Regions from separate parts of the Homo sapiens genome. Here all the other regions are linked to region 1. The links come from fine-mapping of genetic effects on gene expression. A gene starts in region 1. Each other region holds a variant in brackets. All regions are shown on one strand. Distances are between the middles of the regions. Region 1 holds the start of JAML (junction adhesion molecule like). Region 2 overlaps FXYD6-FXYD2 (FXYD6-FXYD2 readthrough). Region 3 overlaps JAML (junction adhesion molecule like).

The links.
Region 2: its variant is fine-mapped to the expression of JAML in cerebellum (GTEx, PIP above 0.99).
Region 3: its variant is fine-mapped to the expression of JAML in whole blood (TOPMed, PIP above 0.99).

The regions. Positions count from the first base shown.
Region 1 is chr11:118,220,031-118,228,209 of GRCh38, forward strand. It overlaps JAML (junction adhesion molecule like), which reads right to left and starts at 4,981. Exons shown (of 10, transcript NM_001098526.2): 1 at 4,911-4,981. MPZL3 (myelin protein zero like 3) reads right to left here. Exons shown (of 6, transcript NM_198275.3): 6 at 6,660-8,179.
Region 2 is chr11:117,834,797-117,842,975 of GRCh38, forward strand. It overlaps FXYD6-FXYD2 (FXYD6-FXYD2 readthrough), which reads right to left. Exons shown (of 10, transcript NM_001243598.4): 2 at 7,923-7,985; 3 at 7,194-7,232; 4 at 6,995-7,069; 5 at 5,523-5,572; 6 at 4,985-5,034. The coding sequence starts at 7,980. It overlaps FXYD6 (FXYD domain containing ion transport regulator 6), which reads right to left. Exons shown (of 8, transcript NM_022003.4): 2 at 7,923-7,985; 3 at 7,194-7,232; 4 at 6,995-7,069; 5 at 6,352-6,388; 6 at 5,523-5,572; 7 at 4,985-5,034; 8 at 2,185-3,481. The coding sequence starts at 7,980. The coding sequence ends at 5,006. It overlaps FXYD6-AS1 (FXYD6 antisense RNA 1), which reads left to right. Exons shown (of 3, transcript NR_186291.1): 2 at 1,473-1,706; 3 at 2,372-3,523. Among named protein-coding and RNA genes, the nearest start is that of FXYD6-AS1, 5.2 kb to the left of the region's middle. RefSeq lists an enhancer at 6,916-8,115. The variant T/C (reference allele first, on the strand shown) is at 4,784.
Region 3 is chr11:118,193,598-118,201,776 of GRCh38, forward strand. It overlaps JAML (junction adhesion molecule like), which reads right to left. Exons shown (of 10, transcript NM_001098526.2): 7 at 6,877-7,015; 8 at 4,401-4,494; 9 at 3,138-3,224; 10 at 128-820. The coding sequence ends at 728. Among named protein-coding and RNA genes, the nearest start is that of SCN2B, 21 kb to the left of the region's middle. RefSeq lists an enhancer at 667-856. The variant C/G (reference allele first, on the strand shown) is at 3,225.

The sequences.
Region 1 (8,179 bases):
AGAGAGGAAAACCCTCTCCTACCTTTTCTGGTCAAAAGTCCCTCTATGTGTCACAATTGGCACACATGGTTTGGGGAACTCAGACCCACCTCTTTCTCACTCTAAATTCTCCCCATGAAGACAGGCAAACCTCCTGCTCTGGATGTTCCCAAACTAGGTGAGCTCAAGCAACCTCAGAGCAGTGAGTCTCCCCATTCACCTCCCCTCTCCTCATACCTGAACCGATTATCCGGTGCAAGGCCCCAGTGCAGAGAAGTCTTTCTGATAGCTGGGATGCCCTTTAGAAAGTGCACCCAAGTCCATCAGTGGATGAGAGTGGAACGCTTTTCCTCAGCGAGAAGCCTCAAGAGAAAGCAGTTTGTGTCCCCAGCGGACATTAGCCCCCAGAGGTTGGCTCATCATTTTCCAGTCCCACCATGGGACAAATCCCATCTGTTCCTTCAGACTCACCTCTGCATTGCATCCTAAAACATTGAGACAAATTTAACCCTCAGACTCTCAAAAAGAAACATCTACTTTTCTTGTGTAATACAGCGTGGTCCCTATGCAAAGAATCCTCAACTTGGCCTCCTCGATCTTTTATAACCAAGAGCAGAATAAGGAGGCCAGGGCTAAGGAGAAAGAAAAATGCAGGGAAGAAAGGCAGGCTCAATTGTTGGCTGATTTAGAAGCCCTCAGCTCCCTCCAGGTTGCCCTAAGGACACTCCTCCAGGTAAGTGCCCTCAGTGCAGATGGCCAGGCCACTGGAAGGCAAACTGCCCCAATGGGATACATGGGAAAAAGCCCCGCACAGCTTGTACCCTCTGCCACAAGCTCAGCTGCTGAAAATGGGACTGTCCTGAGGGCTGAAAGACCCTGAGGACAGAATTCTAGCCCCTGATGGCCTTAAAATGAAGTGGGCTCTCTGCCCCCGCTGAATTCCAAATCACAGCAAAACAAAGCCAAGGGTGACTCTGGAGGTGGCAAGTAAAATTATCAATTTCCCCTTGAGTTCAAGAGCTCCCTGTCATAGAGATGCCTCCTCTACCCCTTTCTGGAAATACCTTTTGCTTATATGGTAAAAATCTGGAAAATCACTATCTGGAGTTTAACAGGCTTTTAGATTCAGTCACCATTGGAACTGAGTACACCATTAAAAGGAAAAGGCAAAATTAAAAGAAGCATGCGTAATAATTACATGGCTAGTCCTAGAAAGTTCTCTTGAGCAGTTAAAATCCTTTGCAAGCTTGAAATGCTCTAAACTCCTCCCGGAAAAAAACAACAGCAGTTATCTTGCACTATAGTTCACTGGTCCCCAATCTTTTTGGCACCGGGGACAATTTTTCCCCATGGAAAACAATTTTTTCATGGAAGACAATTTTTCCACAGACCAGGGAGGGTGGGTGATGATTTGGGGATGAAACTGTTCCACCTCAGATCACCAGGAATTAGATTCTCCTAAGAAGCATGAAACCTAGATCCCTTGCATGTGCAGTTCACCATAGGGTTCATGCTCCCGTGAGAATCTAATACCCTCGCTGATCTGAAAGGAGGCAGAGCTCAGGCAGTAATGCTTGCTTGTCTGCCCCCGACTTACCTCCTGCTGAGCGGTTCGGTTCCCAACAGGCCATGGACCAGTGCCAGTCTACTGCCCAGGGGTTGGGGACCCCTGCTGTAGCTCAACTGCTAAAGCTTTGCCCTCTCACAGTGGTGCCCTGGGTTCAATTCCTGGCTCCAAAAGTGAGTCTTTTGTGGTTTAATCATTTATTGATTCTTTTCCCCTCCATGGAGAGCTCCTAATTTCCTGTCTTGAAATTTTCTTTTCTCTGAGTTACCTTTGGGGCAATTCTAGATCTTGTAAATTGCTTACCATCTCTTTGGAGACACCTTGTGTGTCCCTGTTTAAGTTATCCCCTTACTTAAGGTTTATTAATTTCACATAGGAGGTTACCTTTAGGTAAAGATTCAAAAGCCAGAAATATTGGCCATTTGTCCTGGCTAAAATCTGGTAATAAAAGATTTTTATAGGATTTTTATTTTGAGAACTCCATAGTCAGAAATCAACTTAATTAAAGACGATATTTGGGCTGTATGTATACAGATATTGTTTTAAAAGCCCCTGCTGGCCAGGCACAGTGGCTTATGCCTATAATCCTAGCACTTTGAGAGGCCAAGGTGGACAGATCGCTTGAGCCCAGGAGTTTGAGACCAGCCTGAGCAACTTGGTGAAACACCATCTGAACAAAAAAAAAATACAAAAATTAGCTGGATGTAGTGGCAGGCACCTGTAGTCCTAGCTACTCAGGAGGCTGAAGTGGGAGGATCACTTGAGCCCAGGAGGCTGAGGCTGCAGCGAGTTGTGATCGCACCACTGCATTCCAACCTGGCGACAGAGCGAGACTCCATCTAAACAAACAAAAAGCCCCTGCTTTCCCTCTAAGAACTTCTCAGTCAATGGAATTTTGTCTTGATTTTCCATTTCTGTCTGTCTGTGTATTTATATGTGTTGTATGTATAGTATTTATATAAAAGAGCTCTAATTAATTGGCTTAAAGAAACTAAAATCAAACATTTTATCAGAAAAAATTGAAACTTTAATCTCTTTTAGGTCACGTGACTCTAATGATTTTTAAACATAAAGACAGTGTAAATAACATAAAAAATAAAGACAGTGTAAGTAAAGAATGTGTTTTGGTGGGAGGTTATAAGAAGGCGTGTGAATATGGTTTCTGTTAAAGAGAACGTAATTTTGTCTAGCTCAGAGGGTTTTAACTATTGGCCTCACCTAAAAGAGTAATGGGACAGCTGGGCATGGTGGCTCACGCCTGTCATCCCAGAACTTTGGGAGGCTGAGGTGGGGAGATCACTTGAGGTTAGGAGTTCCAGACCAGCCTGGCCAACATGGCAAAACCCCGTCTCTACTAAAAATACAAAAATTAATCAGGTGTGGTGGTGAGCGCCTGTAATCCCAGCTACTTGGGAGGCTGAGGCAGGAGAATCACTTGAACTCGGGAGGCGGAGGTTGCAGAGAGTCGAGATTGTGCCACTGCATGCCAGCCTAGGTGACAGAGTGAGACTCTGTCTCAAAAAAAAAAAAAAAAAAAAAGAGTAATGTGACAAAACTGATGGTTTAAGCAAGTTGAAAAGGGTTTGTGAAGGGTTAATCTCATGAAAAGTTCTGTGGGTATAAGCAGGTTGGCTAAGATTTAAAGGGGATTACTTAGTTTTTCCATAGGTCGAACACTGAAATAAAAGCACACTGATGTAGGGCCAGAATCCGGGCCCATGTGTCTGAATAATGGTTTTCTAGAGAATTTATTTGTTTAACAGAAAATTGTAAAGAATTATGAGAGGTTTGTGGACGTTTTACCTTATGGTCAAACTATGATTGTATAGATTTGTTTATAAGGTTTTATTAAGAATTGGATCTAACATTAATAATATACTAATGCAAAGGTGAAATTTTGCTTTCTCTCATAAACAAGATTTTTGCATAATATTTTAAAATAATGAGATTTTTGTTTACCTTTTAATAAACAACAGAAAAAGGAGGAGAGAGGAAATAGATTCGGTTGGCATCATGCTGTCTTTATTGCGACCTGCTTGGAAAGTTGACTCTCCCCTCTATCAGCAAGTAAAGATTTTTGCCTTTTAGAAATTTTGGAGTTATCATTTTGGCTACCTAAATGACTTGTAGTGACTCTATACTAATCTTCTCTGAGCAACTCTCCTCCATATCCTGTTGGGTAATGAGAACAAGTGGCACCCCCTCCCTCCAAAAAATCCATACCCCTTTATATTACAGAAAAGAAATCTTCAGAAAAGAGACATGCTACAATGAGACTACCATACAAGATGTGAAAGTTACCCCCCAAATTACAATATCATGAGACAAAATAAGGGAGAGCTGCTGTCTCTCAGTGTTTGTCCCTAGTAAGGACAACTAACCACTGAGCAAACGGACAACTGCACAGCCTTCTTTTACTCACAGAGTGTTGTCCACCTGCAGAGCCAAGTCCTCTCAATCTATCTGCACACTGCTGTGCACTTCTAGGCTCTCAGATGTTTTTAGGTCTACAAGTCCATATAACCACTCTAAGCCATGCGTCTTAAAATATGCCCTCATTTTCCATTGTTAAGCCATTGAATACAGACTGGTAGGTCACGTGGCTTCTGTAACACAGTCTAGGTCACATCGGTTAATGCTCTACGCGAATGGGACCCTGGAGGTCCTTACTCCTGCTCTCTTCTCCAGAGTAGGTTATACCTAAACCATCCTGCATCAGCCTTTCCCAAGGTCAGGGCTGTGCTGAGGGTGTAACAAGCATGGACAGTAGCCTAGCTTTCTTGGGAGATTTAAGTCTCGGGCTTCTAAAGGTTAAATATTGGTTTGTCTATAATGGGGAGAAGAAAAACAGTGGTATAACTATGTAAAATGATGGATATATTAATCTGCTTCACCATAGTAAACTTTTTACTATCTACATGCATCCCACAACATCATGTTGTATACCTTAAATACACACAATAAAATTTGTTTAAAAATAAAATTAAAAACTGTCTTCTAAAAAGAAAAACAGTGAAGAAAGAGCTCTGCTGTGAGCTCAAGAACAGCCAGTCACAGCTCCACCTAAACCCACGGGTGACTTAAAAGCTGAAGCCTTGTCATAATCATTGTCACGTACTCTTATTATGATGAAACTTTGCTCCTCTTTTTGCTGAGGAGATTCACCTAAGTTACTCTACACGACAGTAACTGAAACAGCACCCATTAGACTACTTTATGACATCCCCCTGCAGAGATCAAGAGTTCTGCAATCGCAGCTTCACAATCCTGAGAGACTACCAATTCAACCAGCCTTCAGGACTGGCACACTTCTGTGTGAGAAAAGTTCAAAAAATGGCTTAAGAAATTCAAAGCAACTGCTTACCCAAGATGAAGAGCACCCAGGGGAGGCAATGCACTGAAATCTCCCCACAGCTGCAGTCCCCAAGCTCAACTGAAAGACTGCTGCGAGCACTCTAGGTTAGGCTCAGAGCAAACCAAACACGTGCCTTCTGAAGTGGTTGCAGAGATGCAAACAGGAACCTCTAAATCAAGGTTCTCATTTCAGTCATCTGGCCCATTACCCAATTGTTATGTATACTTTCATTCTAAAAAGAGGTGACAAATTCAACCTACTGAGGTGAACCTCACACTCAGACCTCTTCAGGTGCCATCTCCCCTTTTAGATGACAAGCCCTCTGAGGGTAGGAGCTTGAATGGCACCAGGCAAATAGGTGCTGAGAAAGAAATCCATTTCATGCAAACAAAATACAATAAACGTAATATTAACACAAAACCTTCTGTGTTAAAGATACAGCAACCTCTTTTATTTTTCCTCTCAAAACAGAGGTGCAACCTCGCCAGGCAATCACCCAATCCCTGCTTCCAAAGATACGCCTGCCCAGTCCTCCAACTCACCATGTAGACATGAAAGTTTCCTCTGGCCATGTGATATCAGCATTTCCAGAATACAGGCAGCCATTGATTCCCATAGAGAACCTCTTGGGTGACTTGGACATCCTAGATTAGAACTCAAGGTTTCTTCACTTCAAGATACCTCTCAGTCTTAGTCACCACTTCAAAATAGGTGTTCTCAATGTACGCACCTTCAACCTCGGCTAGATTGGCTTGACCTAGGCATGGGCAGACTCATGGAACTTGTCCTGTATCATCTGAAAAGCTGTTGAACGTTTGCTCCCAAGCACTACGCTGCATGGTCCTTGAGAAGTGATGTGCTAGAGAGCCAGCAATCTCCACAGCATAAATATTCCCATCATAACCTATTTCAAGCTACCAACAGTTTAACAACTGGCTTGCAAAATTCCTAAAAAACTTAATACAGGTTGAGTATCCCTTATCCAATATGCTTGGGACCAGAAATGTTTCAGATTTCATATTTTTTTCAGATTTTAGAATATTTGCCGAATACATACAAGTTGAACGTCCCTAGTCTGAAAATCCAAAATGCTCCAATAAGCATTTCTTTGGAGCATCATGTTGGCACTCAAAGTTACAGATTTTGGAGTTGAAATAGCAACCACTCTTTTGTATTTTCAGATTAGGGGTACTCAGCCTGTAATCAGCTCTTGCTATGTAAGCTGGTTCCAGCACACCACGGAACCTCTGCAGGTTCTTGCGGGGGTACAGCTCCGACATGACTGGTTGCACGATGCTGAAAACCACTGTTAAATCAAGTTTAGCCTAAAGCTGCCTCCTTACATATTTTAAGTTTGGCCTAAAGGTTTCTCTGTACATCATGAACTATAACGTAAATGGAATAGTATACGGACTCTAGTCTACTCTTGTGCCAGTCACTGAGTTTGGCCAATCGAAGATGGCCAATGATTCAAACTATTCAAATAAGGCAAACACCGAGCTGTAACCAATCCGGCTATTTCTGTACCTCACTTCTGTTTCCTGTACATGACTTTCCTTTTGCTGTCCATAAATCTTCCACCACGTGGCTGCGCTGGAGTCTCTGAGTCCACTCTGGCTCAGGAGACTGCCTGATTCATGAATCATTCTGTGCTCAATTAAACTCTTTTAAATTTAATTCAGCTTTTAATACCACAAACCCCCATCTTTTTCACATGACAATTCCCACCTTTTATGTAGATATGCACACACCAAAAGGTAGCCAAAGGGTACAAAGAAGTTTATTGACTATGATGCAGTAAAGATACCAAGAGTTACAATATTTGTGCATATGGCCCAACAGTGCCTACCCTCCTACAAAACAAAAACAAAAACAAAAAAAGGCAATGAGGTGCAGCAGTTAACAGCCCAACACTGGAGTCAAAGGAATGGAGCTGCCTCTTCTGGCAGCAAAGTTTCAAGTTGTGCAATTAAATAATAGTCTTGGTCCACTCCTTGTGGGTCTTCTTACAGTTTCCCTTTAGAACCATAACTGAGTGACTTAGTAGAACATTCATATTCAGGATGTGGCCTCCAGAAGTGTCGTTTTGTTTTGTTTTGAACAAAGACGTGCTACCTTCTCTCTTGAAGCACCAGTGCTGGGTTCAGGAGCTACAGAGGACTAAGATGTTCCCCAAGTAGCCTGAAGTAACAGGTCACATGGAAAACACAAAGCAATTGGTGAGTCCACATTTTGTAATAGAATTAAGAGCGTAATGCATAAAACTTAAAGTCATGTAACCACATGTAAAAACTTCAGCAGCTAAAGAAAAATTCTGGAAGGCTTTTAACCCCTTCTGAACTAAGTTCCCTTTCTAAACGAGGCTGGTTTCCATGGCTGTGACAAGAGCTCATGAGGTAGCAAAAAGAGAGAGAGAATAGCACCTTAGAAGTTACTCAAACAAGAGGTGAAACAAATAAGTAAACAAAAAAAGACCACTTTATCTTCCTTTCATCCTTAAAGAAGGCAGGTGTCTGTACACTGCTTTGTGATCCTTCGAAGAATAAAAAGCTGTAACCCAAATCTCAGTATAAGGGATGAAGAAGGAAAATGATAGCAGCTGATGACTGGGATGCGACCACAAACCCATATAGTAAACTAAGTTATCAACGTACTCCCTTACCACGAAGGACTTCATTCAGTCATTTAAAAAGCAAGGGACTAGTTCAAATCATGATTAAGGCTATAAAAGAACACGACTGAGTATTCACAGAGCACCAATTACCTCAAGTTTAGACTAGGTGTCAATCTACAAACATACTACCCTGCATTAATCTTCACAACACACCTGCGAGGACATTACAAGAAGGCCCAGCCAAAATTAGTTCCTCATTTAATGGGATATGGCTTTCAGTGGGTTCCTGTAACACCATCTCTTTCTTGGAGAAATGAGGACCTGCAAAATAGTCCCCCTCACAATGAGATCTCTATCTTCAAATCTCTGAGAGCCCAAGTTATTTACTCTCATTGCTCAAGTTGCTTTCCTCTCTCTGTTGAGGTGTCAGAAATGGTCACGTTAGATTGGCCTCAGACAACCACAAAAGTTAACAAGCAGTCCCAAAGTACCGTGAGGTTTAACCACTGGAAATGTAAACTGCCGGTCCTGTCTTTGCCCTTCTACTTCCTCGCGTGACCAGAGTCAAATCACAATGTCCTTCAACTAACCAGATTCGCTCATCTGTGGACTAGGTTAACAGAAGAGGCTAGGCCAAATCTATGATACGGATCTAACAACCCAA
Region 2 (8,179 bases), 390 kb before region 1:
GTAAGGATAACCATTTGTAGATGATGTGCTAGAGATGCTGACCATCATTCCTTACTCTTAACATAATTATTATGAGAAAAATTAGAACCTCCTCATTGGACTTCCTTATTCCTATGTCGAAGTATAATGTTCTGTTTTTACTAACGTATGGGGGGCGGCACACACAAAGCTTTGCATGTCTAGGGCCTCTAGGGATCTCAGCCTGGCCTCGCTATGAAATTTCTGCAAGGCCTGTCAATTCCCTGATGTATCACGAGTGTTCCCGAACAATAAGCTCATTTACCAGGTCTTGCTGTGACCAGATAGTTTTTAATCGCCATGATCACTGGGTTGACAGGTTGAGCTTGAGCTCTACCATAAGCCTGTGTCTTTCCAAAGGCCTGGGGGACCGAAGGCAGAAGCAAGAGCACACGTAGAGAAGGCACCGAGCAAGCGGATCTGTGCGGTTCTTCGGTTCTAAACAACTTGCGGAATCCAGGCGGACTCAGGGCCTGTGTGGCCACTGGGCAGGGAAGGTGGTGGTTCCCAGGCCCATCGAAACCACAAGGAGCACTGACTTCTGTCTCCTGCTATAGCTTCAGGTGCCAGGTTCACTGGGGTCTTAGAAGTTGGGGCTGGAAGGAGGTGGGCCCAGAGGGTCCCGCTCCTTAAGTGCTGGCTTCAAGATGGAAGATATTAAGACGTTCCAGGGGTCGATTCTTTTTTCAAGACCCTAAGATGTTCCAGGCTTCTGTAGAGCAGGCACAGTCCTTGCCCTCCAGGAATTGTATCAATAAAGACACAAAACACTAGAGGCAGAAGCTGCACACAGGCAACCTCCACGCAGAATCTGCCCACATCTGTGTTGGTTTGGCCAACAGTGGTTTTTAGAAAGTTGAGTCAGAGTGTCTTTGGGAGGACACCGTAGGTGACTGCAGGTGCCATGCCCCATCGTCACTCCAGCAGATTCACATATTGGCATTACCTGCCTGGTCTCTACAGTCTGGATGCCAAGTATGAAGTGTGAATATAAAGGCAGCAAACAAGTGTGATTGGGGCACAAGAAAGGGATTCGGCTGGGCGCTGTGGCTCACGCCTCTAATCCCAACAATTTGGGAGGCTGAGGCAGGCAGATCACTTGAGGCCAAAAGTTCGAGACCAGCTTGGACAACATGAAGAAATCCCGTCTCTACTAAAAATATAAAAATTAGCCGGGTATGGTGGAAGGCACCTGTAATCTCAGCTGCTCAGGAGGCTGAGGCAGGAGAATCGCTTGAACTCAGAAGGCAGAGGTTGCAGTGGGCCAAGATAACGCCACTGCACTCCAGCCTGGGCGACAAGAGCAAAACTCCATCTCAAAAAAAAAAAAAAAAAAAAAAAGGGATTCGATTCTACCTAATGCCCAGGGAGGCTCCACAGAGGAGGGGTATTTCACAATCCACGTCACCCACCCTGTCACTCCCTTGATCCCTTCCTTCCTTTTTTCTTTTTAGAGACAAGGTCTCATTCTGTTGCCCAGGCTGGAGTGCAGTGGTGCAATCACGGTTCACTGCAACCTGGAACTCCAGGGTTCAAGCAATCCTCCTGCCTCAGCCTGCCGAGTAGCTGTGACAACAGGTGCGAGCCACCATGCCCAGCTAAGATTTCACCATGTTGCCCAGCTGGTCTTGAACTCCTGGCCTCAAGCAATTCTCCTGCTTTAGGCTCCCAAGTTGCTGGAATTACAGGTATGAGTCACCACCCCTGGCTCTCTTTACAAGTCCTTAGGTAGTGGCCCCAGAACTGACCAAAGAGAAATGTTAGGATGTTTTACTCCAGGCCACTGAGTACTTGGAGAAGCCATTGTGACTCCCTTTTTTGCTCCAAGACAGTGTGCAATGTACAGGTCCTGCTATGGGATGTGGCTTGAGCCCAGTGGCCTGGGAAGGCGGGAGAGAGGGAGGGAGGAATAGAAATGGCGGGAAGGTGCGGGACGAAGGGCTGAGCAGGAGGAGAGGAAAGTGAAGGAAGAAAAGGAAAGGAGGGAAGAGAAGCGGGGAGGAGGCAACAGTGACAGCAGCTGACGGGGCTCTGTGCCTGCCTGGGTGGCTATCCAGTCCTTCCTCTTCCCTCTGACCATGGACGGACTCCCTCTAGCCCTTTAAGTTCCACAGACCCTACAAACACTCAAGTTCTTTCACAGAAAGGAAAGCACCTCCGAGCCACTAGGAAACAAAGGATATTTTATTCCTTTTTTCTGTTGTTGTTGAGGATAGATCACGATACAGAGAACAGCAATGGGTCACAGCGCACGGTTTGGTTGGTTTCCGCGGGAACACAGAGGACAGGAGGGGCGGGATCTGGGTTGAGTTCCCACTCTCGTTATGACCTTCAACCTCTCACTGTTCCCAAGGGCTGCACGGAGCCTGCTGAGTCTCCAACCCACCTCGCTCACCGCTCTGACCACTGACAGGCAGAGCAAAGGATGCGGGAGTTGCCTCTGCTGCCCATCTAAGGGGACGTAGGCAGAGAAGCAAAGGCCTCTGCTCTCCCTCCATCCATCCCGGTGTGCTGGCCCCAACGGAACAGGAGTCCTTCAACTATTGCCTGCCAGAGACCCAATTGCAGGGACTGTAGTCTGCATCTGGATGAGCTGGGCTGTAGATTGAAGTCTCAGAAGCAGGGAAGGTTGGAAGGGGTAGGGTCCCAGAGCCCATGGAGTTATTGCTGAGAAGATATGCAGGGGACACATTCCCCAGGGGCAGAGTAGAAGCCCTGGGCCTGGAATCCCCGGGCGCTCTGTGAAGGGGCGGGGCAGATGGGGACTCCTCGTGGAAGCCCCTGGGAAGAAATTAACCACGGAAGGGCATAGCCTGCCTGACGTCAACGCTGGGCTCACCAGCTCCTTGCTTTGTATCTCCAGTTGCTAAGAGACCTTCAGACTGGGATCAGGTGGGATAAGGAAGCAAGGTTTTTGTTAAAGGAGTGAAAGGAGTCCATGAAGAATGATGACAAAGTGCTGCAAACCTTCCCAGGTCCCAAGACGACTGAAGACCACTGCCCGTGCTCTTACCCTACGCATCCCTAAATCAGGGGAGGGGGCTGGTCTCGGGCAACAAGCAGCCTCCTAGGAGCAGAAGGTGATGGAGGGCCACGGGGGCAGGGAGGAGCAGATGGCCATGTGGCTCAGCCCCTGCCTGGGAAAGCGAGTCCACAGTTCACTAACAAACACAATACCATCCACAAACAAGTAGCCACAAAGACCACAGTTAGCAAACACACACAGTCACACACACACACACACACACACACATCACGGGAGGTGGGCAGGACCGCAGGCTGCAGTGGGGAGGCAAGTGTTAGTTGCATCATCAGGTGGAGGAATGGTGTTAGAGGGGATAGGGTGGGGGACACACAAGTTCTTGGCTTCTCCTGGGGAAAGGGCTGTTGCTGAAGTGGCCGGTTTTCTTAAGCATCGACATTTGCATCCAAAGGTTCAAGCAGCCGCCTCAGGTTCCAGAGGCTGAGGAGGAGGATAATTTAAATTAAAAACACTTCGGCTGCCTCTGGTATCCTTATCTGCTTCTCTCCCTTCCTTGAGCACCTGCCCACTGAAATTCCCGGTATGACAGCCTCGTCTGAGACGCAGAGAAAGGAGACAAAGACACAGGGGAGGGGTGAACCTCAGAAGAAGCCTCTCCCAGGTGGGCTGGAGCCTGGCAGACATGGAAAGGAAATTGTTAAACCCAGGACCTCCCCAGTGGTTGCTCACAGTCCTGAGCCTTAGGATAAAAGGTTTCTGAGAAAGAACTAGTTTGGGAAAAAAAAAATGAAAAGACATTTCATTTCCAGGCTGCCTCCTCTGAGCCTTCCCAGATTCTCAGTCTGTGATGAAATAGACAGAACACCAAGCTACCAGGAAGGGCACCTGCCTCCTAGATCGGAATCTTCGTCCATTCGCACTTAGGTGATCACTTGCCTTCGAGAGCCCCATCCAGAAGACGGGAGTAATGAGCCCTGCTCTGCCCATCACGGGCCGCTATGAGGATGCAAAAGCACTTAGGAAAGAATTTAAATGCTACACAGGCACACGATATTGTTACGCACAGTCAAAGCTGGTGCATCGGGCACTTCATCATCCAGAAACCTCTTTTACCTTACAATGTGAGATAAACTTATATACCTTTCTATAATGCCTTACTTGTATGGGGGGAAAAAAAGGCAGAAGTGAGCTGACAAAACACAAACCTTTTCCCTTAGGATATTCCAGGGCATGTCATAAAGCGAGACGCACAGGACAGAGGGGAGCAGTGGCGCTGAACCACAGCCGCAAAGGCCTGAGTTCACAGTCCGGGCTGTCACTCTCCACGGGGCTATTCCCTCTCATCTTGGTTTCACCTATAAAATGGGCTAAACCCCACCTGTCCCATCCTCTTTTTCTGGCAGACTCGAGTGAGTCTGTGTGTGTGGTGGCACTCTGAAAACTGTACAGCATTTGCCAGTTACTACTCTCCTGTGCCCCCTACGATGAACAATGGAAATAGATACTAAAATCAGTGCCCTTAAATGTGGAGAGGGAAGGATCATATACTATTTGCTCTACTTTTGGTTAGGGTTGGGAAGTTTCATAATAAGGTGTTTAAAAAAACAAGTGGCCCTAAAGTACTTTCTGAGTCACCACGGAAAGCCATTATCTTTATGCTACTTTGAGATTAGGAGCATTTCACTAACTCTAATTCTCCCATGTTGCACTTGGGATGACGCCCTATGCACTCGGCCAGTGGGCTGTGTGGAAGCCCCATTTCCTGGTGTTGGCATGCATGTG[T/C]GTGGGACACTTCGGGTGTTTCTAGTCCTGGTCTCTCTCACAGCCCCTTTCAGACTCCTGAAGGCTCCTCAGGGCAGGGCCCATAATAAAAGCTGTGCCCACTGCAAAAGCTAGCCCCATCCTTCCCGCCTGAACCCCTGTCCAGGCCCTGATGCAGACGGTGATGGCAACAGGGGCCAATCCAGGCACTGAGCATCTCACCTTCCACCTGATGGCTGCACTTCAGTTCTCTGCTTTCTGGGGCTCTGTTGCTGGAAAGAAAACCAGAATGGATTATAGTGTATAGACTCCTCACCCCCGTGGGCCACCCCCAACAGCAGCCGTGTCTCTGCCTGACTCTGGGGGAGCAAAGAGGTGACGGGCATGGGATTTCGAGTCAGAACGATCTGGGTTCAATCCTGGCCCTGCTACTTGCTGCTTACAGGAACCTGGTAACCTCTCTCAGTCCCTCGGTTACAAAATGGGGACAATGATGCCTATTTCAGGGCTGTGTGCCCATTAAATGATATGGGGTCTGTGCCTGGCACAAGCAGATGCTCTGTAAATAGCAGGTGACACTAGTAGTAGCCTGTTTGGTGGAGTGAGGGGGCAATGCTGCAGAGGCCCTGGAGACCCACTCTCCTGGCACTGCGGGAGCATGTCTGGCTGGCCATGCACCTGGCAACAGTCCCTTCCTGAGCCACAGAGGGGTCTCTCTGTTCCCTCTTTTCCACCTGGGCAGGTGGTCACGGACAGTTACCATTGGCGGTGATGAGGTTCTCCACCTGGGCTTCCTCATCTCCTGGGGCCCTGCAGGAGAAAGAGACACACAGCCCCATCAGAGATCTCCAGGGCAGACCCAGAGAGCATCGTTCTGCTCCTCACTGGGGCACAGCTGCCTGCAGTCAGGCTCCTCCCAGTGCCCTGAGGGGCTGGAGCTCACTCTGCTGTGGGATGCATGGGACAGAGGGAAAGGTCTGGACTGAAGGGTCAGACTCAGAGGGAACTTACAGGCACCCTTCAATGTCAGCCCTCATGGGAAGGGGAGGCTAGGGCCACATGGGGGCTTGGGTGTGTCCTGCCACACGCTTTGGACTTCTGGGGTCCAAGCTACCCTTGGCTATTATAGTAAACTAATGGGGTATGACCTCTATGTGGGAGTAGAAAGAAGGTCCAAGTGTCTATTCAGCTCAAAGAGCCTCATGAACAGGTGACAAGTGGGGACTGTGTCGCAGGTCCTGTAGAGAGGACCTGGGCATCTAGAGAGGCCAGGAAGCCCTCTGCTTCCCTTCTCCCAAGCTCAACTGTCCCAAGGGCCTCCAGAAAAGGTTCCAGTACTTTCTTGTCCACTCCCCGTCCCCCACATAGATCAGAAGAGACAGGATGGGCTGACCTTCAATGTTTTGACCTCTCCTTTGCCCCAGAGTCTACCTGGCAGTCCTCAAACTTCCAGCCCTACGTCCCAACACACACGTTCTGCCTCCGAGACAAGAATCCAAGAGAATGCCCATTTGGGGGTCACACACCAGGGGTCCCTTCCTGTCCCACCTAGTATCACCCCCCCAAGGCCACTGCCACGGCATCCTTACCGGGGCTTCTGATTGAAACTGCACTTGCACCTGCGACCTGAAAAGCAAAGAAACCATCCAAGGTCATGCTGCTGGCTTGGCCACAGCAGGGCCAAGGGTCTGTGCAGGTTGTGGGACTATGTAAATGGCACCCCCTAGACCTGGGCAGTGCACAGTTTGCACAGCTGCACACAGTGGCCCTCGGATGGGGTAGCTTCTTCTGGGGCAAAGGAAATACATTCTATAGCTGGAATGGCTACACCCCCACAGCCCTCTTGATCATGTGAGTAAAGAGGGATCTGTGCAGATCAGGCTCATGTGGGAACAACAAACTCGGAGGCACATCCCTCGCACACTAGGGCAGCACCTGTCTCCTTCCTCCGTGACTGCCCCATTCATGCCCTATAGACACAGCACTGGGAAGCCACCCTGCTCGTTCCTATCTATGCTCATTGTCATATGACATTTTCTTTGTTCCCGTGTCACTGTTTTACTGAGCACTTACTATGTGCCCAGCACTCTACTGGGTCGTGAAGATAACACGGAGGGCAGGCAGCCTCCTTTCCTCTCCAGGAGAGGGACCAACCAGGCTCTCACACTGTCCCCACCTGCTTAGCAGCCTCAGTCATTGCTCTTAACAGAGTGAGCAAAAGAACAAACTTACTTAGGATAAGGAGGATCCCAACCGAGAAGAGGACCACAGCGAACACCAGTCCCCCAATCCTCAGGGTCTGGTAATCTGCCAAAGGAACCAAGGGTGAGAGAGGAAGGGGCCAGGGAGAGGGTGTCTGTTCCCCCTACCCCTCCTGCCAGGCAGGGCTGCATTCCCCCTGACCCCTGCACCCAGGGTTGCCATCGCTCACCATAATGAAAAGGGTCCATTTCCTTCTCCTTTTCAGCTGCTGCAAAAACAAACAGTTGGTCAAGAGAAAGAAAGCTACACAAACTGGTTCCCAAATATCTAACCTTGCCTCACAGACCTCAGTCTCCACAAAGGAATTCCAGAGGAGCAGGGCCCATTAAACAGAGATGCCTAGAGGTGCACGGTAGGGCGGGCCTGCCAGTTAGGGGGTTAGGGGAACCCTAAGGGCCGAGGTCAGTGAAGGCATCGAAACTCAGTGAGGCTCTGAGTCATGCAACACCCACATTCATTGCCCCTTTGTATTCTTACATCATCCCCAGAAGGCAGGGTCAGTTTTCCTCTTGTGACACACGGAGAAACCGAGACCAAGGAAGGACATATGACTTGCACGAGGCCAGCACTTGCTAATATGGTCTAGAGACTGATGTGCAGGTCTGAATCCCAGGGTTCAGGCCACAAATCCACAGAGGCGCAGTGAGCTTGCGGGGCTTAAAAACTACTCCCTGCCGGACCCTTAGGGGGCGAGGGGGCAGGCTGTGCTGAGGTCTGTGAATAAATAGCTGCCACCTCCACGACTTTCTCTGCTGACTGAAGGGAGAGGCCCCTGACTAGACATGAAGAACGTGAGAGTCCCCCAGCCCTAATGTCCCAAGGGGCCCAGAACCTTCCAGCAGAGAGGGCTGGACAGGGTTGTCATCTTGTCACAGCCAGGTCCCAGAGGGGTACTTACCACTGGCCAGGACCATGGGGGCCAGCAGGCTGCAGAGGAAGACCAGCACCAACTCCATGGCGTCTGGGGACAGAGGGAGGAAAAAATGATTCTCTGGCTAAGAAGCCTCCATCCGTCAGCTCCAAGCGTCAGCCTGACCAGGGGCCAAGCCAAATCCCCAGCTTTGCTCTGCACTCATGACTTGGTGAGGGTTCAAACAACCTAAGCACAAGCAGTTGACTTTTTTTTTTTTTGAGACAGAGTCTCGCTATCTTGCC
Region 3 (8,179 bases), 26 kb before region 1:
TGTCCACTGTGGCAACCCATGAGTATCAGGAAAGACAAATGCCTAAACTTCACCCAGAAATTTCAAATTAGGAGGCATGTGGTGAGGCCCCGCAAGGAGCCACCAGCAGGAATGAAGAACCACTGAGTTAAATCCCAAAACTGTATTCATACCCTACTTCCAACCCATTCACCCCAAACCTTTCCCAGGACCAAAACCAGCCTCTAGTGTGTTAGCACGGTTTGGCTTTCCTCCAGGAACTTCAGTTTTTCCAAAAGTTTCTAACTGTAAATTCCTCACCAGGACTTTACTTGCCCCCTCAACCGAGGCATAAAAATAGGACGATTTCCACAAACAACACTTATTTAGAAATAATGTGCCAGAGGAATGATTTGGGTTGGTTTTTATCTCTGATTCTTCCCAGTAACTCATCCACTAAGAACCCTGCCCACAGGAGGGTCTGATCCAACGGGGGGTTTGAGGCCACTCAGCTCAGCCTGGTTCCCAGGGCCAGTGTCCCACTCCAGAGGCCAAGTCCATGCTCCCCTCCCCTCAGCAGGCCTGTTCCTCCAGAGCTGTCCAGTCTCTCTGCCAGGCTCCAAATTCTCCATCTTCAGTGTATTGACCAAACAATGAGACAGGAGGACAGCTGGGAGAGCGGGAGTCTGAAATCACTGGTAGAGTGGCCCAGGACACACACAGGAGAGAGTCTCCACCGCTGCTGAGATGAAGGGACTCTCCATTCTTCTCAAAAGGCTTGCTGTGTTTTTGGCATTCCCCCACCTGACTTTTTTTCAAGTGAGTTGTTCCGATCTGACCTCAGAGAAGGCCAAACTGGGTGCTGTGGGGGAAGGGCAGAAAGAAACAAAACATGCTTGTAAGAAGTAGTTCCATAATCATAGCAGCTGCTGTTCATTGAGCTCTTCTCATGAGCCCGGCCCAGTACTGAATTTCATATGCATTATCTCATGTGATCCTTACCACCAGGAGGTAGGTATTATTATTGCCTTTCTAAGGATAAGGAAACTGAGGCTCAGACAGGCCAAGTTACTGCCCAAGACCATCTGGCTGCAACACAGAGTTAGAATTTGGACCCAGGTCTGTCTAACTCCACAGCTTGTGATCTTAACCTCTGTGTGTACAGCCTCAGAAAGGGAAAACAGCAAGGTGCCACTACATTTACATGAATTTCATCAATTCAACAACAAAAAACAAAGGCTCTTTGTTACCCCTGCTCCCTATCAGAGAACACCTTTATAAATGCAGTCTCAAACAAGTGGCCTGCAGTCCCAAATTCACCAACAGCCTTATTTAACTTGGCACATCATATTTTAAAATAACTTGACTGGCCCCTGCCAGCCTTTGAGTTTGCAGCCCAGGCCTCTTCTCTTACTCTATTGGATCTAGATCAAGAGGACAGGAATGGTGTTTTCAACAGAATCAAAACCATAATCGCCTAGCATTAAACCTGGGGAAGTTAGCTGTGAAGACAATTGTTCCTCCTGCATCATCTCCACCTCGGAGACGTTCTGCAAACAGTGCCACCCTGGCTGGTGACCCACTCAGCAGTAGCCACAAGGCAGCTGTATCAGCAGGTCTCCAGGAGCCAGGATGAGGCCTCGCAAGTTACTGCAGCATCACATAACAGTATGGGAGAAAGATACAGAGGGAAAATGATTCCATTCAGCTGCAACTTCAGGGTGGAGTTAATGTTTCACTCGGTGGATCCAGGCCAGGCCTCTGATCTCACACTTCCCTGGCAGACCTCTCTCTGCTGCAATCAGCTGGGAGTCATGTGTCCTCAGGGCTGGTACGATAGGAACAAACAAAGCCCATCATTCCACAAGCAGAGGAGGCCAGCCTTCCCAAACCCACAGAACACTGCTCCTTAATAGGCTGGGTGCCTATAATTAGTCTACAAATAGCACCGTGCTCATCGCCAGCTCACTCCTTTTGTCCCTACCCCCACTCACTGCACGCCCCGAGGTGCCTTTTCCAGGCACTGCAGTTCTCTAAGGGGCTACAGAAGTCTAAGCAAAGGGAAATTAGGAATCAGACTCCAAAATATTGTATGAGATCCAGCATGCAGCCTGCCTGGCAGTTAGGTTATGAGAAGGTATAATAAGTCACAAAGTTAAGAAACAAAATCTAAGCATTGGAAGGAACCCTACTTTGACCTTTTGATAGCAAGGAAAACGACTCACAGCAACACAATACTTGCCCAAGGATCTTATCCTATTTATCCTATTTTCTTTGTTGTTGTTGTTGTTTTGAGACAGGAGTCTCGCTCTGTTTCCCAGGCTGGAGTGCAGTGGCGCGATCTTAGCTCACTGCAACCTCCACCTCCCAGGTTCAAGCAATTCTCCTGCCTCAGCCTCCCAAGTAGCTGGGATTACAGGTGCCCGCCACCATGCCTGGCTAATTTTTTTGTATTTTTAGTAAGACAGTGTTTCACCATGTTGGCCAGGCTGGTCTCAAACTCCTGACCTCAAGTGATCCACCTGCCTCAGCCTCCCAAAGTGCTAGGTTTACAGGTGTGAGCCACCATGCTCGGCCTTTTTTTTTTTTTTTGAAACAGAGTCTTACTCTGTCTCCCAGGCTGGAGTGTAGTGGTGGATCTCGGCTCATGTAACCAACGCCTTCCAGGTCCAAGCAATTCTCGTGCCTCAGCCTCCCAAGTAGCTGGGATTATAGGCACGCATCTCCACACCTGGCCAATTTTTGTATTTTTAGTAGAGAGGGAGTTTTGCCACATTGGCCAGGCTGGTCTTGAACTCCTGGCCTCAAGCAATCCGCCCACCTCGGCCTCCCAAAGTGCTGGGATTTCAGGCATGAGCCACCACACCCGGCCGTGTTTTCTTTATTAGATTGAACTGATGAGGCAAAAGACGTCCTCCCTGCCCTCAGTAAAAGCCACTCTTCACTTCTTTTCACCACTAATATAAATAATCTCTGGTGATAACCTTTAATCCTTGAGCTTGGGTAAGAAAGTTTGATATCACTCTTCTATCCAGCAGAACTTCAGTTTCTCAGACTTTTCTGCTACTTAGAAAAATCACCGCCCTCAGCAGCCTCCCTTGGGCAACCCAGCCACGCCCACCACCACCACCACCTGAGCCTCTGACACCTGGCTCAGCTGAGGCCAGAATCATTCTCACCATGGTCATGTAGGTGGCCTCTGATTTTTCACTTGGTTCTTCTTCCTCGATCACCTCCCGTACAATTATTGGGGAGTAAATGTGTTT[C/G]TAGAGGGGGAAAATGGTACAAAAATTCCTAAAAATTAGATGAATCTTATACACCAGAGAAAAGGCCACCCACTCCTATTTGCTAGGCATCGACCACCCAAACTGCTGGTTCAGAGGGTTACTGAGACCTAGAGAATTCTCAACAATGATAATTCAGTCTTCAGTCTTCTTGAAAATTAACTGTCAAAGAACACAGTCTTAAGAACCAAACTCTTTGCTTCAAAAGCCAAACATCTTTGTTTAGATGGATGTTTAGGTAGCAGCAGGGGTTCCTTATCTTGCTAAATTCCTTGTATTCTGGGGTTATTTCCTTCTAATTACAGTAAAGGCAGAATGGCATTAATCAGCAGTGAATTGTCATCATCTCCCTCAGAGGATTTATGTGGCAGGGCCAGCCCTCATTGAACCTCACAACTGTGAGGTTCATGGTCCTGTCACTCGTTGGTAAAGCAGTATCATCCAGTGGCCCATTCTTGGACCACTGCACTCTACTGGGAAAAAATCCTACTCTTGGGACAAAAACAGCCCAAAATAGAGAAAGGTAACTATTCAAAGAGTTTTTTTAAAATTAAAGAAAGAAAAGAAAGAATAGGAGTTAAAGAAAACCAATCAATTTCTCAGTCTCTAGAAGCAATTATTTATAACTCCATTACAAAATCAATATGGAGAGAAAAGTCCTTCTTAATCCTTTCTTGCTAAGATCTTAGACTATTTCATTTTAAGCATTAGAACTCCTTAACTCCTGGATGTATTATAATTCTCCATTAGACTTTAGACAAATAGCACCTCCTAGATTACAAAGCATTTGCATATCATCATCTTATGTGAACCTTACAACAACCCTGTCAAGCAGGCTGGGCAACTATAGTATCTTTATCTTTATCCTCATTTTGCTGATGAGACTCAGGGAGGTGGCAGATCTTACTGACTCCAAGCGCAGTGCTCTTTCCTCAGCCCAATACCAGGATCTGCTGCCTGGGGCTGTCCCAGCCGACCCCATGCACTGTACTCCGCAGAGGCTCTTACTTTAGTGACAAAGGCTTCCTGAGTCCCTGCTCTGTGCCAAGCACTGGCCTGCAAGCTGCGACATACAATGGGTAAGATATGGTTCCCGGGGGTATGAGAACGGCCCAGGCCTGCATCTACTTAGTGTTTTAGGCTGAAGCGTGTGTTCACCTCCCCTTCACATCTTTCAAAATGGCAGGGTTTTTCTTTTATCTCTGGATTAGTCTTCTTCGTGTTCTTCACCAAGACTGTAGAATTCACTGAACTGCAAGACATGAAAAGCATGTGGAATTAACCAGCGGGCATGGTTTATTCAAGGGTCCCTACATGAGATCCCCTCTTGGCTTCGTGAAGAGAGAGACACCAGAGAAGGAACTATTCTCTCTGGACTCCTACAGCCAGGGCTACCCGGCTCACCTGGAAACCTGAGAAGCGCATCTCTTCTAATGAAGAACAAGAAGCCGTTCTGGAGATAATTTAGGCTGAAAAGCAGCTTCAACTTCTCTATTATCACTCAAGCCACTTTCAGTCCGTATGGGAGAGGTAATTTTAAGTGAATGAAGAGAGAGAGGGGAGATGGGATTCCATTTGACCATCCTGTCTACATTTCTGAGGACCAGGGAGTGCCGCGAAACCAGCAGGGGGCAGCAGGAGCTCAGCAAGACGCCAATCCGAAGGGCTCCTGGCCTTTCCGGGGGGCGGAGCAGAATAACCCCCACAAACACCCGACCCAAGCCCCAAGCAGGAGCTCTGCGCCTGCCCTGTCGGGGTCCCTTGGCCTTTGATCTCATGACCATTTGCCTTCTGAACATACTTTCTTTTTTTCTATTTTGGCCTAAGTCAGAACTAAAAAAAAAAAAAAAAAATTCAAGGTTTAAGCTAGAAAAGAAACCATATGTTTTGGTCTCAGTGGAAATATTTTCCTTGTATTTTCTGCTTTTAAAGTTGTATCTTCTCACTGTCAAATAATTCAGATAATACAGAAATGTAGACAGTTGGAAGTGGAAGTTCCCTGCAACCCGTCACCCCATGGGATCCACCTTCTCCTTCACTTCAAATTCCACACAATTACCCACATTTTACAACTGTCCTTCCAAGCCTCTCTCAGTGTAAGCATAAGCTCACATAAAATGTATTTAGTACATATGCTGCTGGAGTGAGCATCATATTATTTTCTCTTTTATAAAAATGAGGTCATACCATAAATTCTGTATTTTTACTCCTTGGATATCTTTCCATGTCATTATGTAGAGGGATCTGGAGTGTTTCATTGACTGGTTCACTGAATCGTTGCCTTTCTGACAGACACTGGCAATTATCCCTATTTTTAATTATAAGCAAGACGGCAGTTTTGCACAAATCTCAGCATATCCATTTAATTATTTCTTTAGAATAAACGACTAGACATGGAAGTGCTACCTTTCCTTTGGCGGGAAACTGAGGTCCCGACAGGGGAAGTAAGCTGAGAGTGGAATCCAGGTTGTCTAGCTCAGTGCTCCGAGCATGCCCAGAGCAAAGACCTTTAGAGAGGCCAGCCAAGTTCAAAACCAAATCAGGAAGCCCTAGGGAGTGCAAGTGAAAACTTAGCAGGCACAAGTGTTTTCTGCAGGATCCAAGACCCACTGGGAAAGAACACTCAAAAGTCAGGACTATTCATGAGGCCCTTTCCCACTGACACTATTTCAACAAGGGAGTCGATCTGCACTACAAGCATACTCCATCGATAGTTGGATAAACTGAGGGACATGGATCTGCCAACAGCCAGTGAAACACAAGTGTCCCTGTTGGAGCATCTGGGCACTTCTGAGACCCTGGGAGAACTACCGATGAAATTCAGGCCTTTAAAAGCACATTATTATTATTATTATTTTTTTTTTTTTTTTTTTTTGAGACAGAGTCTCGCTCTGTCACCCAGGCTGGAGTGCAGTGGCGTGATCTCGGCTCACTGCAAGCTCCACCTCCCAGGTTCACGCCATTCTCCTGCCTCAGCCTCCCAAGTAGCTGGGAGTACAAGCACATGCCACCACGTCCAGCTAATTTTTTGCATTTTTAGTAAAGACAGCTTTTCACCGTGTTAGCAAGGATGGTCTCGATCTCCTGACCTCGTGATCCGCCCGCCTTGGCCTCTCAAAGTGCTGGGATTACAGGCATGAGACACTGCGCCTGGCCAAAAGCATCTTTTAATAATAATTCATTTAGAACCTGAGGGCACCCATTCAAAGATCGTATCTCATAATTAGAATGTGGTCTTTTAGATAAAACCACTGGCAACCCTTAAGATCTTAGCTTCTATGCGGAACGTACAGTATGGATAATTTAAAAATCATCTTTTAGGCAGTGAATGGTACCATGATAGTTCTTGTGTAAGATTTATGCTCTGAATTATGCCCTACTGAGGCCCCCATTTCTAAGGGAGTTTGTAGTCTTTACATAATAACAAAGTGAATGAGGAGAGCGTAGGAATATTAAATTCTTTTCCCGGGCACAGTAAGCAAAGTGGGCAGGGTTACCACAGATGATTCCATTTAAAAATACCCCCTTCTGTGAGAATGGCATAAGTAGGGCCCTATCACCCTGTTCTACTTTGGGGTAGAGGCAGCCTTGCACCCCCAGCCTCCCAATCCAAGGGGTGGGGGTAGCCCTGTACCTCTTATTTCCACAGGTCTTCTTCACGATCAATATCAGAACAGGGAGCAGCAGGATTGTGGCACAGACAATTCCCACAATGATCACCAACTGATTACCACCCAAGACCAGAGGCCTCAGGGCTGCCGGGGTCACCAGTGCTTGGGAAAGTAGAAAAGCAAGGAGAGGGTCTCAATACTTTAGCAAAGAGCTGAGAGCCCCACAGCCCTATACCAAGTAGCACCAGCCAGGCCACGAAGCGGAGGGGAAGGCCAGACTCCACCCCATATCTGGACACTAGGGACACTGTCTCCATGAGATTGAGAACCAAAGTCTAACCCCCTCGTTTACCCTAAAATGTAGATTAAGGTGGGTGGGAGAAGAGGCTAGCAGTTCACCTCTAGTAAAGTTTCCTTTCACATCAACAATTCTATTCTAAAATTTGGCTTAACAAGGACCCAGAAATAACAGGCATTTGAGAGGCTGCTGATCTTCCTTAGGGCAAGTGGTTGTCTTCAAAAGAACTCATGCCGCAAGACTCAGCCCCACAGTGACGATACCAAGTAAAGCCTCCGGAGGTACTTCTGCCCATATGGAACCTTCTACTCATCTGCATGGTTCTTTCTAAATACATAAAGCAAACACCTCCTCAGGGCCAGACAGCACTAGGTACAGGGGATTCAGAGATGAATGATGATGTGTGGTCCCTGCTTCCAAGGAAGAAGACAAACACGTCAACAGAAAACCACAGGCTGCTGTAGGCGCTACAACAGAAGTCTGTATGGGGAACAGAGGGGCACAGAAAAAAGGGTGTCCAATTCTATATGCAGCAAGTGAGAATTTGCCAGCAAAAGTTCTAAAGTTTAACCTAAGACTTACAGGAAACATCCAGTTTGTTGGGAAGACAATATGGAGAAGGACAGAGGGGATGTTCTGCATGAGATCTGGAGGCCTGACAGGATGATGATTTTAGAAACTAGAAAGAGTTCAACGGGTCTGGCACAAAAGTGGCATTTGTGGGTGTGCTGGAGAATTTCGCTGGAGAGATGACAGGGTCCAAGTCAGGAAGGACCTTGACTATCTCAACCAAGAATCTGGCATTTTTCTGCAGGCAATGAAAACAACATTGAAAGATTATTAGCAGTGGAAGAGAAAGTTCTTAATGTGATTTAGAAAGATGGCACCAAGAGCCGCGTGAAGAATGAGGAGCAGTGGCTGAGAGAGAAAGCAGAGACTGGTTAGAGGCCTACAGTTCAAGACAGAGATGAAGACAGCCAGAACTAAGGCGGCAGTGACAGACTGGAAGGAAGACAACTTCAAGAGTC